2 separate regions of the Homo sapiens genome follow, and region 2 is linked to region 1. Evidence: fine-mapped expression QTL. A gene starts in region 1. The other region holds a variant in brackets. All regions are shown on one strand. Distances are between the middles of the regions.

What was found. PIP is the estimated chance that this variant, and not a neighbour inherited with it, causes the effect.
Region 2: its variant is fine-mapped to the expression of TRANK1 in monocytes (TOPMed, PIP 0.94).

The regions. Positions count from the first base shown.
Region 1 is chr3:36,941,158-36,949,764 of GRCh38, forward strand. TRANK1 (tetratricopeptide repeat and ankyrin repeat containing 1) reads right to left here and starts at 3,897. Exons shown (of 24, transcript NM_001329998.2): 1 at 3,630-3,897. The coding sequence starts at 3,652. RefSeq lists a silencer at 3,545-3,764 and an enhancer at 3,995-4,064.
Region 2 is chr3:36,921,045-36,929,651 of GRCh38, forward strand. All of the region lies in intron 1 of TRANK1 (tetratricopeptide repeat and ankyrin repeat containing 1), which reads right to left. Among named protein-coding and RNA genes, the nearest start is that of TRANK1, 20 kb to the right of the region's middle. RefSeq lists enhancers at 2,454-2,955, 2,956-3,455. The variant T/C (reference allele first, on the strand shown) is at 3,532.

The sequences.
Region 1 (8,607 bases):
CACTACTGGCCTGGTTTCCTCCAAAATCCATCACTGATTTTTCGGACTGGGAATACTGCCCTCTTTCCAAGTGCTAGGAGGACCCAGTGCTTAAAAAATAAAAAATCCCAATCAAAATGTTGCTGGAACTTCAAAGACAGATATAGCTAAACCCAGAGTTGGCTTGGCTCCAAAAGACACACAGGGAGTCCCACCAGCCCACCAGGCTCACAGGAGCTCACACAAGCATGCTATGGTGAGCACAGGGCAGGTACTGTGAGGCTCAGCATCTAAGCAAAAGATGGAATTGATTCAGGTAAACGGAGTCCAGGGTATCTTAGGCAAAGGTCATTCACATTTCCAGATTTTCAACAAAAACAAACAAGGCAATACTTATGCAATTTTAGACCAAGAAAAATGTCTGCTCTGGCAGAATGAACCTTGCTAACCTAAGGAGTGACCAAAGGAGTAATCACTCTTGGCTGGGCACTGTGACATTTTTGTGTTCCAAAGATGCCTGTTTATCTGGCTCAATACTTTCTTTTTTAAAGGTTAAACTTAACCATTCTCCCCATCGCTGTAACCAGCCCGACTATCAGTCTTTGCTGTAACTGTTACAGTGTCATCTTTGCTGCCCCAAGTCTTTCTTTCCTGTAAAGATTTCTTAACAAGGGTGCTTTTGGCCTTGGGAACCTCAGGCAGCACTCCAAGGAAATTTGTTTTAAAAGCAATGAGCCTGCGGTCACTCTGAGGGCAAAGCACTGACATGTCAGCCCCACCTCCCCATCTGGAAATGCAGTGGAGGGTTCATTCCTTAAGGTCAAGAAAACCAACACCACATACTTGATAATGGCCAGAGAGGCCCACACCTCAACCTCCACTTCAGTTCTTAAAATCCTCCTCTTCAGATCACTTTACCTTCCCCAAACAGGAGGACTGCAGGCTCTACTTGGCTGCTAAAATAATCTTCATCCCCAAAAGCAAAGATAAAATAATGAGGGCATATACTATAGAAATGGGTCTTTGGTAGTAACTTCAGGAAAACAGAAGCAACCAGCAAATAGAAGTTTAATATTTCCACAAGGCCAGTCTCTATTTGGTTCCTGAGAGCCATGGACTGGGAAGTCAAGAGATAAGTTGTCTAATCCCAGATCTAACACTAACTCGTTGGTAATGACTAACAAGTGATGGCCTTTCTGGGCCTTAATTTCTTCATCTATAAAATGATCGTGGTCCAGCTCTTGATTGCAGCTGTGAAATTCTGAGACAAGACCCAAAGAATCCTTTTAGAAAACTATGAATCCAAGGCTGCAGTAGGGTTGCAGCATCTTCCCTTCTTCTTCCTCAAAAAAAAAAAAAAAAAAAAAAAAGAACAGGAGCTATTATGCCCCTACCTCCCTAGCATTTACACCAGGCCCCACTGGGATCCATGCAGGAGGCCAGCTCTCTGTGGACACATAGCCAGAACCAAAGTAACCAGAAGCATCTGCGGTCTGTCTTTGTAGATGGTACTGGCTTGAACCACACAGCCATGTCCTACAGTATTCTATCACTCAAGTATGAATTTCAGTCTACTTCATCACTCCTACACCAAGTCCTCACTTCCAAAGTCAACTCCCCTGTGAAATGCTGACGGTCTCCTCATACTCTGGGAGAGCGGCGGAAACAGAACCTGCAGTTGCCCCATAAAGCTGGTCAGTCGGTCATAAAGTGAAGTTAACAATTTATGACCCGCTTTAAAAAAAAAAAAAAAACATAGAATGGGCCGGCGTGGTGGCTCTGGCGTGTAATCCCAGCACTCTGGCAGGCAGAAGCGGGTGGATCACTTGAGATCAGGAGTTTGAGACCAGCATGGCCAACATGGCGAAACACCGTCTCCACTAAAAATACAAAAATTAGTCAGGCTTGGTGGCGCCCCACCCCCGGCCCCCCGTAATCCCAGCTATTTCGGAGGCTGCGGCAGGAGAATCGCTTGAACCCAGGAGGCGGAGGCTGCAGTGAGCCGAGATCGCCTCATTGCACTCCAGCCTGGGTGACAGAGCGAGAATCCCTCTGGTGGGGGGTGGGGGGAGGGAATAGAATGGAAAATATCATTGTGCCTCACCCTGTAGAAAGAATAACTATACCATGAAGCTCTTGCTGCAATTTTACATGTGTATGTGTGTGTGCGTATATATGTATATATAATATTACACACATATTATGCATATATACATTATATACATATAGGTGGGTGGGTGTGGGTCTTGATCGAAAAAAGACCTAGAAACCCATACATAGGCCAGTGGCAGTGGGATGCGACTCTGGGAGTGAATGCCACACACACCTATCCCACCTCTACCCACCCCCCCACCCCCCGCAGAGGATGCAAAAGCCAACAAAGAGCATATGAACTCAAGCACCTATCCTGCAATCCTACAAAACAGACCTGCCTGGAAAACAGTTGAAACAAACTCCTGACCACCGTCCCCGCCCTCCAACACACACACACCGTAGTACTTTTTTTTTTTTTCTATAAAGGACCAAACAGGATGCCATCCGGATAACAGCCTTATATCAAAAAGGATCCTGGAACCCAAAACGCTCAGCACGAGGGAGCAGGAGCGCATACCTACGCTGGGAACACAAGGCTTTAATCCCAGCTATTCCTTCCCGCATAAGGACTAACTGAGCCAGCAGCAACTGGGTTGGAGCAGATAGGGGAACTAGAGACCTCAGAGCCCCATTCTCTTTCTGCTTCTTAAATTTTTTTTTCTTTTATTTTCCAAATTGCACACTTCCATAAAAATTTTCCTAGGAAGCACCAAAGCTTTCAACTGCCCAGAAACACCCCGATCTGGGAGAAAAGGTGGCTTGAGCTGCACCTCAAAGATGGGCTCTATCTCAGCCGGGTTGCAAGTGCACAGGGCTCCCCGCGGGACGGAGACAGGGAGTTGGGAGGAAACGCAACGCGCCTCCCAGGCAACAGACTCCGAGCTCCGGTTCGGAAACGCTCCGAGGCAGAAGCAAGGGCTTCTAAGGGCTCCGCTTCCCAGCCTTGGGTCCCTACTACTACCTTCCCCCTAGACTCGGTGAGCCCAGGCTGATGGACCGTGCAGTCCAGTTTGAGCCAGCCCAGCAGCCCTCAATCGGGCGGGCAGGGAAGAAGGCCTCCTACTGCCGGGAAGAGGCCAGCGCGCTCCAAGTTCCCCGCAAATTCCGCCCTTCCCGCCTGGCACGGTTCCCTTGCACCGCTGTGCTCCGCTCCCAGGTTTCTGCCCGCCAAGAATGCTTGCCCCGGGGGCGCGCTCGCTGGTCAGGAACCTGTCGGCAGCCCCCGGGAACCCCTGAGGATGCGGAGGTGGGCCCGAGAGCTGCGGCTTCGATGCCGGGGTGGGAGCTAGGCAGGCCGCGCGCCGCCGCAGTCCTGTCGCAGCGCGTGCCCTGGTCCCTCCGGACCGAAAAGGCCGAAGCCGTCCCCCGCGACCGACCCCGCGCAACTGGCTCGGGTCTGCACCTAGATGGCTGTGGGCCCCACAGGGATGGCCGGGCGGGCCCGTTCGGCCGCTACCTCAGGGTCGCCAGTCCCCGCGCGCGGCCGCCTCCCGCCAGGAAGGGTGGCGGGCCCGGAAGGCCAGAGATGCCCCAGTGCTTCCCGCGCCGCTACGCACCTAGCTGCCCGCGGGTCCCACATGGCTGCGGCCGGAGGGTCCGCACCAGGACCGCCGCCGCCTGGGGAAGCGCTTCCCTGTGGGCAGGGCGCGGCGGGCAGTGCGGAAGCCCGAAAGCTACCGGAGCCCGGGGCAGGGGCGGCGCGATGCAGAGGCGGCGTTCGGGGGCCCCCAGCTGCCTGCGGCTCGGCTACCCAGCCGCGATCAGAGGGGGCGGGGGACGCAGGAACCCCGGCGTCCGGGCGGTGTGCAGCCGCAGACCTATTCCAAGTTTCCACGTAGTTGCGAGAGCCCAAAAACTGTCACGTGCACGTCGCTGCTGAGTGGGAGGAGGTGTTTGTCATCGCGTTCAAAAGGGGCGTTTCGGTGTCTCCCGTCATGCAAGCAAATGGTATGGCTCTCGGCCGCCTTTGAATAAACGAGTGCTTCGAACCCTTTACCAGGAGGGACTAGGCGCACAACCACCTCCGACACTCCTCGGGCATGCGAGAATTCGGCTTTCCTTAGTGGGGCCCATCAATGTTGTCCGGGAGGTAAAGAAAGTGATCGGCCAACGGCCTCAGCGTGGGTTTTCTCCTTCCCTCGTTCCTCCCTCCAACAAAGGACGTACGGAGAACAAGCCCCCTAGCTCCTACAGATGAGGAGCTCAGGAGTCGGGCGAATATCAAGTACTTACTGTGTGCTTGCCCCTCCACTCTGGGGAGGCTGGGGGTCCGGGAGTGAAGGGGGCAGCGAGACCGCGGGCTGCTCCACGCTCACCGTCGTGTCCATGGAGAGTAAGTGCGCACAGGCCTGAGCAGGCAACAAAATGAGGATCTTGCCTTGTCTTTCCACCTCCCCAGTGATGATCGACAGAGTAGTGGGTCGGAGAGGACCACCTCTGGCTGCTACCTCCCCAGCGGTTCTCGGCCTAGGGAGCCGGTTTGGTCTTCACAGCTTCTCTGGGCCTGGGAGTACTTTCCTACACACCAGAGAATCCACCCAATCAGAGAGCTAAGCCCGCCGCCCTCCCCTGGGGCAAGGTTCGGCCTACACTGCATCCCGGTGGTTCGCCCATCCTTCTGGGGGACCACCACACCAGGCTGCCTGGTGGCAGGGAGGACACCACCAGAGCTTTAGTGAGGGGGACCACACATTTCAGCGAAACAGAGAGGCTTTGGTAACACGTGGACACACCTAAGGCACACAGTATACTTCTCTCCACTGGTCATTCTGCGTTGTGAACTAGTCTCAGTCTAGCTAGTGGTCTCCTTGCTTCTAGAATCTCACAGAGATTTCTGTGCATTGATCTTCCCCAAACATCAGGATGAATCACGTACAGTTCAAAAGCCATCAGTGGCACTCCATTGTCTCCTAGAGATCAGGTTAGGTACCCGGGCATTTGAGATTCTTCTTCACAATCTTGCCCCACATTTCCAATCTTAGCTTCCTCATGCAAACTCTATACTGCAGTGCTTCCCAACCTTAGTTACACAATAGAATCACCTGGGGAGCTTAAAAACAAAAACAAGGCCGGGCGGGTGGCTCACACCCGTAATCCCAGCACTTTGGAAGCCTGAGGCAGGCGGATCACCTGAGGTCGGGAGTTTGAGACCAGCCAGACCAACATGGAGAAACCCCATCTCTACTAAAAATACAAAAAAAAAAAAAAAAACCCAAAAATATGCGTATGTTTGGCTTTTACTCCCAAATTGTCTAATTGACATGGGCGTCAGGAATTTTTGTTTTTGTTTTTGTTTTGAGACAGTCTCACTCTGTTGTTCAGGTGATTCTCCTGCCTCAGCCTCCTGAGTAACTGGGATTACAGGTGCCCGCCGCCTTGCCCGGCTGAATTTTTTAGATTTTTAGTAGAGGCGGGGTTTCACCATGTTAGACAGGCTGGTCTCAAACCCATGACCTCAAGTGATCCACCCACTTAGGCTTCCCCAAGTGCTGGAATTATAGGTGCAAGCCACCACACCCAGCCACATCAGGATTTTTAAAAGACTATAACATGCTGCAAAGTTTGAGAATCACTGCTAGCCACCAAATAGTTGGACTACTTGCTATTTCCCAGACATCATTGGTCCTTTCACTTTTAGGATACTTTCCATATCCTTCCTCCAATACTTTTCCCAACATCCCCCAATTCTATATTTAGGAAAGCACATGCCACCTCTTCTAGCATACCTCTTTCTGTTGGTGATTTTTGGGTTTGTTCAGTTTGGGTTTTGGTTTGGTTTGGTTTTGGTTTGGGGTTTTTTGGTTGCGGGGTATTTTTTGGTTTCGGAGATATTTTTGGTTTTGGGGTTTTTTGTTTTTCTTTTTGTTTTGGGGGGTTATTTTGTTTTGTTGTTGTTGTTGTTGTTATTTTTGCCAACTTCAAGGAGTCTACTTCCAGAAAGCCTAGCCAGGTTCTTACATCAAAGAGAGCAAGCCAAGGGATTGGTGAAGAGAGGAGGATTTAAAAAAACCAAAAAGTCCGTTTACACTTTGACCACTCTTTCACTAGTTTTCATAAGCATCTCAAAATCTTGTTGTCATACATCTTCTTTGGATATCTTCACCATAATCCTCAAAAGTCACGTCAGTATGTTATCTTTCTTTTTAAAACTGTTTCTTCTCTGTCTTCTATTTTTATATTTTTATCAGTTATACATTCACAGTTAAAAGAGCAGGCCTCAGCCAGGCGTGGTGGCTCATGCCTGTAATCCCAGTATTTTGGGAGTCCCAGGTAAGCAGATCCCCTGAGTCAGGAGTTCAAGACCAGCCTGACCACCATGGTAAAACCCCATTTCTACTAAAAATACAAAAATTAGCTGGGCATGGTGGCGCATGCCTGTAATCCCAGCTACTCTGGAGACTGAGGCAGGAGAATCGCTTGAACCTGGGAGGTGGAGGTTGCAGTGAGCCGAGATCATGCCACTGCACTCCAGCCTGGGTAACAGAGCGAGACTCCATCTCAATAAACAATCATAAAAATAAAATAAAAAATAAATAAATAAAAAGAGCAGGCCCCTTTTTCCCTTCCACCTGACTTCTTCCCTAGAAACAACCACTTTTACATCTTTCAGCTGATTATTTTGATGCCTATGCTCATGTCTCTAAATAACGTTTGTATTGCTACTTCTTGTTGTTGGGGCTTTTTTCCCCTCAGTTTTATGCATGATCAGGTAAAATTTTTGAGACTGTGCTTGTCTGAAAACCTTTATCCTTAATATAGTTTGGCTGGGTATAAAATTATCAGCTAGAAATCATTTTCTACCGGGCGTGGTGGCTCACACCTGTAATCCCAGCACTTTGGGAAGCTGAGACAGGCAGATCACCTGAGGTCAGGAGTTCAAGACCAGCTTGGCCAACATGGTGAAAACCTGTCTCTACCAAAAATACAAAAATTAGCCAGTCGTGGTGGTGGGCACTTGTAATCTCAGCTACTCCGGAGGCTGAGGCAGGAGAATCACTTGAACCCAGGAGGTGGAGGCTGCAGTGAGCCAAGATCATGCCACTGCACTCCAGCCTCAGCAACAGAGGGAGACTTTGTCTCAACAAAAAAAAAATAGAAATCATTTTCCTTCAGAATTCTGAAGCTATTACTTCAGTGACTTCTAGCTTCCAGTACTGCTGTTGGGAATTCTGAAAACATTCAATCATCAATCTTATCTATTTATTTAGAGACAGAGTCTCGCTCTGTCACCCAGGCTGGAGTGCAATGGTGCAGTCTCAGTTCACTACAACCTCTGCCTCCTGGGTTCAAGCATCAGTCATCAATCTTTTTATAGGACCTCTTCTTTTTTAAATCTCTGGAAGCATGAAGAATCTTCTTTTCCTCCCCAGTGTTTTGAAATTACACAATGATCTGCTTTGATGTGGGCCCATTCATTGATTCCACTGGGTACTGCGTGGGTTATTTCAGTCTCAACACTCAAGCTCTTCAGTCTGGGAAAATATCTTGAATTATTTTATTGATTTTTTTTTTCCATTTTCTTTCTCTCCCTCTCTCTTTTTAATCCTATTATTCAGGATATTGAACTTCCAGGACTGATCTCTGTGATACAGTTGCTTAATTTTCAAATCACTTCTCTCCTGTTTTCCATCTTTTTTTTTGTTTTGTTTTTGTTTTTGTTTTTGTTTTTGTTTTGAGATGGAGTCTCGCTCTTTCGCCCAGGCTGGACTGCAGTGGCACTATCTTGGCTCACTGCAAGCTCCACCTCCCGGGTTCACGCCATTCTCCTGCCTCAGCCTCCCGAGTAGCTGGGACTACAGGTGCCTGCTACCATGCCCAGCTAATTTTTTTTGTATTTTTAGTAGAGACGGGGTTTCACTGTGTTAGCCAGGTTGGTCTTGATCTCCTGACCTCGTGATCCGCCCACCTCGGCCTCCCAAAGTGCTGGGATTACAGGCGTGAGCCACCACGCCCGGCCCTGTTTTCCATCTTTTTTGGCCTTTTTTGCTGTAGTTTCTGGGAGAGTTTCTCAACTTTATCTTCCACTTCTTAATGAGTTTTTTGTTTCTGATATCATACTTTAACTTTTCCAAGAGGTCTTTTTTATTCTATGAGCATTCGTTTGTTGGAGTACCCCATTGCCTTTTCATGATTGCATATCTTTTATTATCTCCTTGCAGATGGTAATTGGGTTTTTTTTTCCTTTTGCATAGGCTCTATTCTCCATGATTCTTTTTCTGTTTCTGTGTTATGTTTTGTTCCCCTTGTTATGGATTTTCCTCAGATGCTTATCTACTCATTACTAACAGTGGGGAACAAGATATCCATCAACAAAGAACTGATTGAATAAACTATAGTACATCCACATTGTGGGAAACTATGGAGCTGTACTAAGAAATGAGAAGTATTTCTATATAAGACTGTGGGCTGAAGGCCAGGAAATATTGCTAAGTGAGAAAAATCTAGACGAGAACAGTGTTTATAGTATGCTACCTTTGAAGTAAGTAGAAGTGGGTATTTTTATGTATTTGCTTATGATTTCTGAAAGAAACAATG
Region 2 (8,607 bases), 20 kb before region 1:
CCTGCTCCATCCTGACTCATCCTGGTTACCTGCTTTGACCTGAGTCACCCCCGGTCCCCTGTTCTGACCTAAGTCACCTTCGGTTACTTGTTCCATAACTGTCTTTCCTGCCAAACTGTTAACCCCACCACTCTGGCTCATACTCCTGCTCTCTTTAAAATAGCCAATTGGAATTAGCTTAGACTGTGCTGTCCAACCCTAGCCAATAGGGAAACAACACAGCAGTAGGGGCTACCTGCGACAGGAATAAGAATCCCTTCCCCTCCCCTGTCCAGGTGTGCTCTCACCATTACTCCATTCACGAGTCACATCCTCCTATAGAAGTAAAAATTGCCTTGCTGAGAAAATTAAATTTATGTTCCAGTGCTATTTCCTTGCGGCACCGAAAATTTATTTGTAACATTCTCACAGAATCAGAAGTAAGGGAGTAAGAGTACAGCTCTTTATCTCTCTGTAACACCATCCTAAGCACACTGGCTTTGTGCCCTCATGCTTGTCCCCTCAAGATTGAAGGTTGCTATAACTCCAGGCATCACATTAAAGACAGGAAGAAGGGGTCCCTGCAACCACTGGCTCCCTGGTACCACGTATCTCTTTCATAAAACTTTCCCAAAGCCCCCAAGTAGACTTCTCTACATTTCACTAGTCAGAAATAGGAATCTAGAAAAACATAAGTATGTGGCTCTATAATGGTAGGTGGCCAGGGAAGAGAATGTAGGTAGGAGCTGCTGGGTTTGCCAAACAACAGGGTGAGCTAGTACATATCCTTATTGTTTAAGTTAGGCTTTCTGTTACTTGTAACTAAAAGCACAGCAGGCCAGGTACGGTGGCTCACACCTTTAATCCCAAAACTTTAGAAGGCTGGGCTGGGAGGATTGCTTGAGCTTAGGAATTCCATACCAACCTAGGCAACACAGTGAGACCCCCATCTCTACAAAATAAAAATTAAAAAATTAGCCAAACATGGTGGCATGCACCTGTAGTTCCAGCTATTTGGGAAACTGAGGCTGAAGATCACTTGAGCCCTGAAGGTCAAGGCTGTGGTAAACCATGACTATGCCACTGCACTCCAGCCTGGGTGACAAAGTGAAACCCCATCTCAATAAAAATAATAATAATAATAAATAAAAAATGAAAGCAGGGCAATTAGCTCTGTGACAGTTACTATTCTATCTGGCTACTATTACTATTCTATCTGGAACATTCTGTCCAATGTGGTAACCACACATGGCTATTTACATTTTAATTTAACTAAAATTAAATACAATTAAAGGTTCAGGGCCGGGCGCAGTGGCTCACGCCTGTAATCCCAGCACTTTGGGAGGCCGAGGTGGGTGGATCACAAGGTCAGGAGTTGGAGACCAGCCTGGCCAATGTGGTGGAACCCTGTCTGTACCAAAAAATACAAAAATTAGCCGGGTGTGGTGGTGGGTGTCTGTAATCCCAGCTACTCAGGAGGCTGAGGCAGGAGAATCACTTGAAACCAGAAGGTGGAGGTTGCAGTGAGCCGAGATCATGCCACTGCACTGTAGCCTGGGTGAAAAAGTGAAACTCCATCTCAAAAAACAAAAATACAAAAAACATAGCTGGGTGTGGTGGCACACACCTGTAGTCCCAGCTACTCGGGAGGCTGAGGCAGGAGAATCGCTTAAACCCAGGAGGCAGAGGTTGCAGTGAGCCGAGATCACACCACTGCACTCCAGCCTGGGCGACAGAGCAAGACTCTGTCTCAAAAGAAAAAAAAAAAAAAATTAAAGGTTTAATTCCTCAATTCCTCAGTCACTCTAGCCACATTTCAAGTACTCCATAGTCATACGTGGCTAGTAGCTATCTTATCTGTGGAGTCCTAATTAGGAACAGGAAGTCACGCTGGCAGGGCCGAGGGAAAGCAACAACAGACATCAGATAAACTATAAGTCTGTCTTTCTTCATGGTCCAGGACACACAGTGCTCCTGTGCAAATAACTTACAATCTTCCATTGCCCAACTATCACCAGACACCTGCAAGTTAGCTCACTGCAACCTTAGTGTTTTATCAGCACTGCACGTAGCATTCTGCAGCCTAAGAACCATCCTATAAAATCCCCAGCAAGACTTTGTTTCCTGGCAGTCAGCTCCTCTTCTGCTGATTCTGACCGTTGCCCTCTTGTAACATATTTTCCTATTTTCTCTAATAAATCCACCCTTCTCCACCTACAACTGTCTTGGTAAATTTTTTTTTTTTTTTTGAGGTGGAGTCCCGCTCCAGTTGTGCAGGCTGGATTGCAGTGATACAATCTCGGCTCACTGCAACCTCCAACTCCCAGGTTCATGCAACTCTTCTGCCTCAGCCTCCCGAGTGGCTGGGATTACAGGCGTGCGCCACCACGCCCAGCTAATTGTTGTATTTTTAGTATAGACGGGGTTTCACCATGTTGCCCAGGCTGGTCTCGATCTCCTGACCTCAGGTGATCCACCTGCCTCGGCATCCCAAAGTGCTAGGATTACAGGTGTGAGCCACCGCGCCTGGCCTTGGTAAATTCTTTTACCCCCATGCCACCAGGATAGTCACTGCTCACCCACAACATTTTGGTGGCCTGTAGGGGGAACTCTCTCTGGACGGGAACTGTCCTCACAGGAAACTCTCTCCCCTCTCTCTTTCCCTTTCTCCAGTCAGCACCCTCCGAGAATAGCCTCTAAGCATGGAGGCAACTGCAGGTCTCCGGCAGGAGCTACACTCTGGTGGGACTGAAAGGTGACTGTGTGGAAGCATCTGACGGCCACTGCCCAGATTGGGTGAGGGACCTGGGTTCACTTACTCTTTTCAGTCTTTCAGCAGCTGGCTTCTTAACCATCCTGGTGCTCTCCAGTGCTGCCTGAAGGCCAAAGGGTGAACAGGGCTGGCTGCCTTGCCTGAAGGGAAGAAGACTCTCTCTCCTATCTGGCAGCAGAAGCTCATCCAGAGTGAATTCACACACGTTTGGGGTAACTCAGGTGCTCTCTTTCTCACTCTACATTCTCCTGTGGGGTCAGCCAGCCATCCTGTCTTGGACATTGCTAAATCAGGTGACCTCGGACAGCCTCAAAATGGTGAGGGTTCCCTTACCCACTCCCTCTCCTGGGCGGGCACCAGGTGAGATCACCCTTTACCCTTTTTTCCTCGTACCTGGGCTGATCACCCAGAGTGAGTACCTGGACTGGCCGTCCAGCGTTAAGGCCCCTAGCAGCCAAGTGCTCTTTTCTAATAGGTGGAACACCCCTTTGGAAAGTGCACCCAAAGTCCCTCAGCAGACACAAGTGGAACCCTCTTTTCATCTTGGCAGGATGTCCCAAGAGAAAGTGCAATTAGTGCCCTGAAGTGGCACCGCTCCCAAGCAGCATGTTTTCCAGTCCCACCATGGGACAAACCCCATCTATCCTTCAAACTCACCTCTGGGCTACATTCTAAAGCATTAAAACAAATTTAATTCTCAGACTCTCAAAAAAGAGAAATGTGTAATTTTCTTGTGTAACACAGCATAACCCTTATGCAAAAGAAATCATCAAATTAAC[T/C]TCCTCAGTCTTTTATAACCAAGAGCAGAATAAGGAGAACAGGGCTAAAAAGAAAGACGCAGAGACAAAAACCAGGCTCAACTGTTGGCTGCTTCACAAGACCCCAGCCCCCTCCTCGTTGCCCTAAGGACACTCCTCCAGATAACTGCCACCGGTGCGAAAGGCCAGGCCACTAAAAGGCAAAGCACCTCAACTGAATAAATGAAAAAAAGTCCCACATGCTTGCCCCCTCTGCCACAAGCTTGGCCACTGGAAACAGGACTGCCCTGAGAGCCAAAGGAGCCCCCCCGGACAGAATCCCAAACCCCAGTGGCCTTAAGCTAAAGAGGCTCTCTGCTCCTGCTAAAAACAGCTCACCTTAACTGGTAACTTGCAGAGGTGAGGAAGAATTCATCTCACACCATAAAGGTCTGGGGTGCTAAGGCTCTCCCTGATGGGAGAGAAACAAGGGTGTTAGGGGTATTGGCCCCACACCATTCAGTGGCTGAAAGGGGGTAACCCAGGCACTCTCACACAAACTTTACAGGAGGCACACAAACTCTCCTGTAAAGTTTAACCTTTTCCTCTCTGTTCCTTTCTTTTTTCTTTTCCTGTTCAATCTAGGGGTCCAGATTGAAAAGATGGTTTCCAACATCCTAACCTCTGATTTTATTGTTCTTTTTAAAACTCCAGCTAGTTACATATTATGGCCTGTTTTGTGCACATTTTAAACTAATGGGCAAACTACAATAAGAAAAAGTCAGAGCTCAAATGGTTAACCTGCACCATAGGGTTAAGTAGAATCATCTAAAGTTCTCTATCTTCCTCTTTTTTTTCTGTCTGCTTTAAATTTACTGTTACCAAGTTGCTGGTGCTGAGATAAGACTCGTTATTTATGATCCAACTAGAATGTAAACATTGGAAACTCATTTAAAGTTAAAGAAAAAAAGGTAAAAGAAGTTTTGTTAAACAAAGAACCTAGAATTTTTTTAACCTTCCTTAAAAGTTAGTAAGTCCAATACCTCTTTTGAATCTTTCTTTTTTTTTTTTTTTTGAGACGGAGTCTCGCTCTGTCACCCAGGCTGGAGTGCAGTGGTGCAATCTCCGCTCACTGCAGCCTCTGCCTCTCGGGTTCAAGCAATTCTCCTGCCTCAGCCTCCCGAGTAGCTGGGACTACAGGCACACACCACCACACCCAGCTAATTTTTGTATTTTGAGATGGGGTTTCACCATGTTGGCCAGGATGGTCTTGATCTCCTGACCTCATGATCCACCCACCTTGGCCTCCCAAACTGTTGGGATTACAGACATGAGCCACTGTGCCCGGCCGTTGAATCTTATTCTTAAAGCTAACTCTTTTTATTCAGTTCTACTGCAGGCTCTCAGTAACTCTCCAACTACCTCTCTTAAGCAGCTTCACCCTCTTAATATTGATGCTTTTATAAGGGAAGTAGTATACAATTGCTATTTGCAAGGAAACTTCCAAGATTACTGCCCAGACAAAATTTCTTTATATTTGTCCCAGTAATGACATATACCCCCACACCACAACAACAATGTGCTGAGGTACTTTGCGTTTAACTGTTTTTCTTATACTCTTTACAGCCCTTCTTCTTTCCTGTCTTCCTGAGTTTCCTGTATATTGTCATTTTCCCTAAACATGGCTCTGTTTTTATTCGTCTATCATGGCTAACTATTGTCTCAATGGCTATACGCAGGCATCCACTCTACTCAGTAACATCACAGGTTGCTAACATAACACACAGCACTAACTGCTGGATGTGCCCTCGCAAACAAGCACTTGAGGATGACATTACACTCTTAGCAGTCCCATGATCTACAGAAGAAATTGTTAAGCCCAATACTCTGGATTAGACTATACCGTTTACATGCACACCAAAAACACAGGTCTAGGAGAGAGACCTGGGCCAATCGATCCCTCATGGCAATCATCCACCGTGACAAAGCAAATAGGGAAGGCACCAGAAATGGCCTGTAAGGCTCACCTCTGCATCAGAAACTCCAAGGGGTCTGGCCCTTTCCTAGGGGCTTTAACACAAGCCCATTATAGTTACATCATTAACTATAATCAAATGTACCAGGAATGGTAGCCAAACAACAACTCTAACGAGTTCACTGTGTACCTCTGCAGGTTTTCTCTATGGTTGGGAAACAACAAAGTTAATGCCAGCAAAATTTAGAGTGATTCCTTTATGCCTATAAATGGTTCAGCAAATGGGACAGAATACAGAGGAACAAGGGTCGAAACTGGGCAACTTCTTAACCTCACTAATATGTCTATATCTGTTCCTCAATTTTCCCTTATCCCATTAATATTTAAAAACCTTATTTGTCAGGCCAGGCCCCACTTCTCCTGCCTATAATAATGATTATACTAGTTTATTTGCACCTTGTATTGTTCATGAAATATCTTGTTTTGCGTCTTCTAGAATACAACTTCAAACCAAAATGTTACTGCAGCAAGGGTATCAGCCAGTAAAAGAACTAATGAATCCCCTTTGGAGCCAGCAGAACAAAATTTGAGGCTGCAAATGCTGTTCCCCTAAGGTCCCACAGCGACTCTGCCTAATTTAACTCCCAACCCAGGGACTGAGGCCCATGTAACCTCCTGACCGACTAACAATCCTAGGTAGGGCCAACTCTACGTCCCTGGTCAGCAAGAAGGTGAAGGTGAGACCTACACTCACATGCCAAAGATTTGTCATCGCTGCTCTGTCAGTGGAGGAATGTGGAGTCCTAATTGCAGAAAAGAAGTCAGGCTGGCAGGACCAAGGGAAAGCAAAAACAGACAACAGATAAGTTGTAAGTCTGCCTTTCTTCATGGTCCAGGACACATAGCCCTCCTGCACAAATAACTTACAATCTTCCTTCACCCAACTATCACCAGACACCTGCAAGTTAGCTCACTGCAACCTTGGTGTTTTATCAGAACTCCACGTAGCATTCTGCAGCCTAAGAACCATCCTATAAAATCCCCGGCAAGACTTTGTCTCCTGGCAGTCAGCTCCCATTTAGTTACTTGCTCTAATAAATCTGCCCTTCTTCACCTACAACTGTCTTGGGAAATTCTTTTCTCTGCACGCCACTGGCCCAGTGGTCGCTCACCCCCAACAATATTTGACAGTGCAGATCTAGAGAAAGTTTTGGAGAGTGCAGTTCCACATAGAATAATAAGCCAGATGCAACATCTCAAATATTATTTTTCTACTCAGTGGAAATTTAGCCTTCAATTCTTGTGTGTGAGAGTATGAGGGCTGTTTCCCCAAATTTTGGAGTGCCCCAGGAGTTGGGTATGTCCATGCTCCATCCTATTCCCACCTCAGAGAATCATGCTGTCTTTCTAGCCTGCACAAATCTAAGACATAAGATGAATATCTGCAGTCAGGAACTAAATTCTCGTGGAATTACTTCTGTGGTGCATTTTGATATAGAATGTGGGGTCACAGGTTGTGATGAGCAAACCCAGCCCATATCTCTCCAAGCATTCCCTGATTAGTGCCCACAGTATTACAACTGGAAACTAGTTTCTTGCCCCATAGCTCCCACATAAATACATTAATTTTAAGTTTCTATCTACTTGTTCCCTTGAAAACTAGAGCAAAGGCCTGCAAAACCAAGGTACGCCCAATAAAACCGCCGTTGACCTTGCAAAGCAAAAATGAAGAAAAATTTCTGACATGATTTCATGAAGCAACGTGGTTTTTTGTTTGTGAAGGGAATGGGGAAAAAGTCTTTTTTTCTACAGATCTGATCCCTATTTGACTAGCTGTTGAGAATTTTCAATACAGCCAACTTTAAAGTCCTGTTTCCCTTGATATTCATATTAGGACTTCACTCACCACACACTGACTCACTCTTGTCCCTTCACCAACCAGTACTTCAAAAGATGCTTTTCATTAAATTCTTCATTACACATGGAACATTTCACTATGGGAGAAAAGCAGAAGCAGGACTCCTGGGAAGTTTAATTACACTAATACTGCTTTATGACTTGATGTTTACAGGCTTAAATTAATACAGGACTAAAATAACTTGTATCTCTGTGACCTGAGGATATAGACACAGATTTTCAAAGAAAAACCAAGGTAATAAGAAGAACATTAATTTTGAAAAGTATACATGTAATTCTCATAGGAGCATTTTTTAAAAGCTCCTTACAAAATATGAACTAATGTCCTTATATTTTCAAGACTTATATGGAGAAAAAACAAAACTTTACTTAAAAAAAAAGTATTTTTAAAATACTAACATGTTTCTGGTTTGGGCAAATTCACTATTATAAAATGTCAAGTCCTCCCATGTTAATGAATTAATGTATATTTTCAGCAAAATTTCAATTTATAAAAAATAAAATGTTTAAAGAAATTAATGAAGCAGCTGTCAAGGTTATCTAAAAGAACACATAAGCCAGAATTGCAAAGATATTTTTAATAAAAAGAGAAGTATCAAGAGGGAATCTTCTTCCAGGTGAGGCTTAAAGGATAAAAGTAAATCAAATAAAACAAATAAATAAAAGAGTAGAAAAGGGAATCTTCTCTAACATTTTAAAATACATATTTATAAAACATTAATTTTTTTTTTTTTTTTGAGATGGAGTCTTACTCCATTGCCCAGGTTGGAGAGCAGTGGCAAGACCTTGGCTCACTGCAACCTCTGCCTCCTGGGCTCAAGCAATTCTGCCTCAGCCTCCTGAGTAGCTGGGATTACAGGCACGCACTGCCACACCTGGCTGGTCTCACCATGTTGGCCAGGCTGGTTTCAAACTCCTGATCTCAAGCAATCCACCTGCCTCGGCCTCCCAAAGTGCTGAGATTACAGGCGTGAGTGACCGCCACCGGGCCTATAAAACATTAAATTGTTAAAGTCAGGTACTAACATGAAAGTAAGCACATCAATGGAACAAAGTAGAATATCCAGCAATAAATATATATAGTATAAAAAGCAGAAACACATGCCATATGTAATAAAAGTGGCTTTTTAAGTAAATTGAAAAAGAGTGAATCATTTGGTACAACTCACTAAACATCTGGAAAATAAGTTAAATTCCTACTTCACCCCATGTGGCAGGCCAAGTAA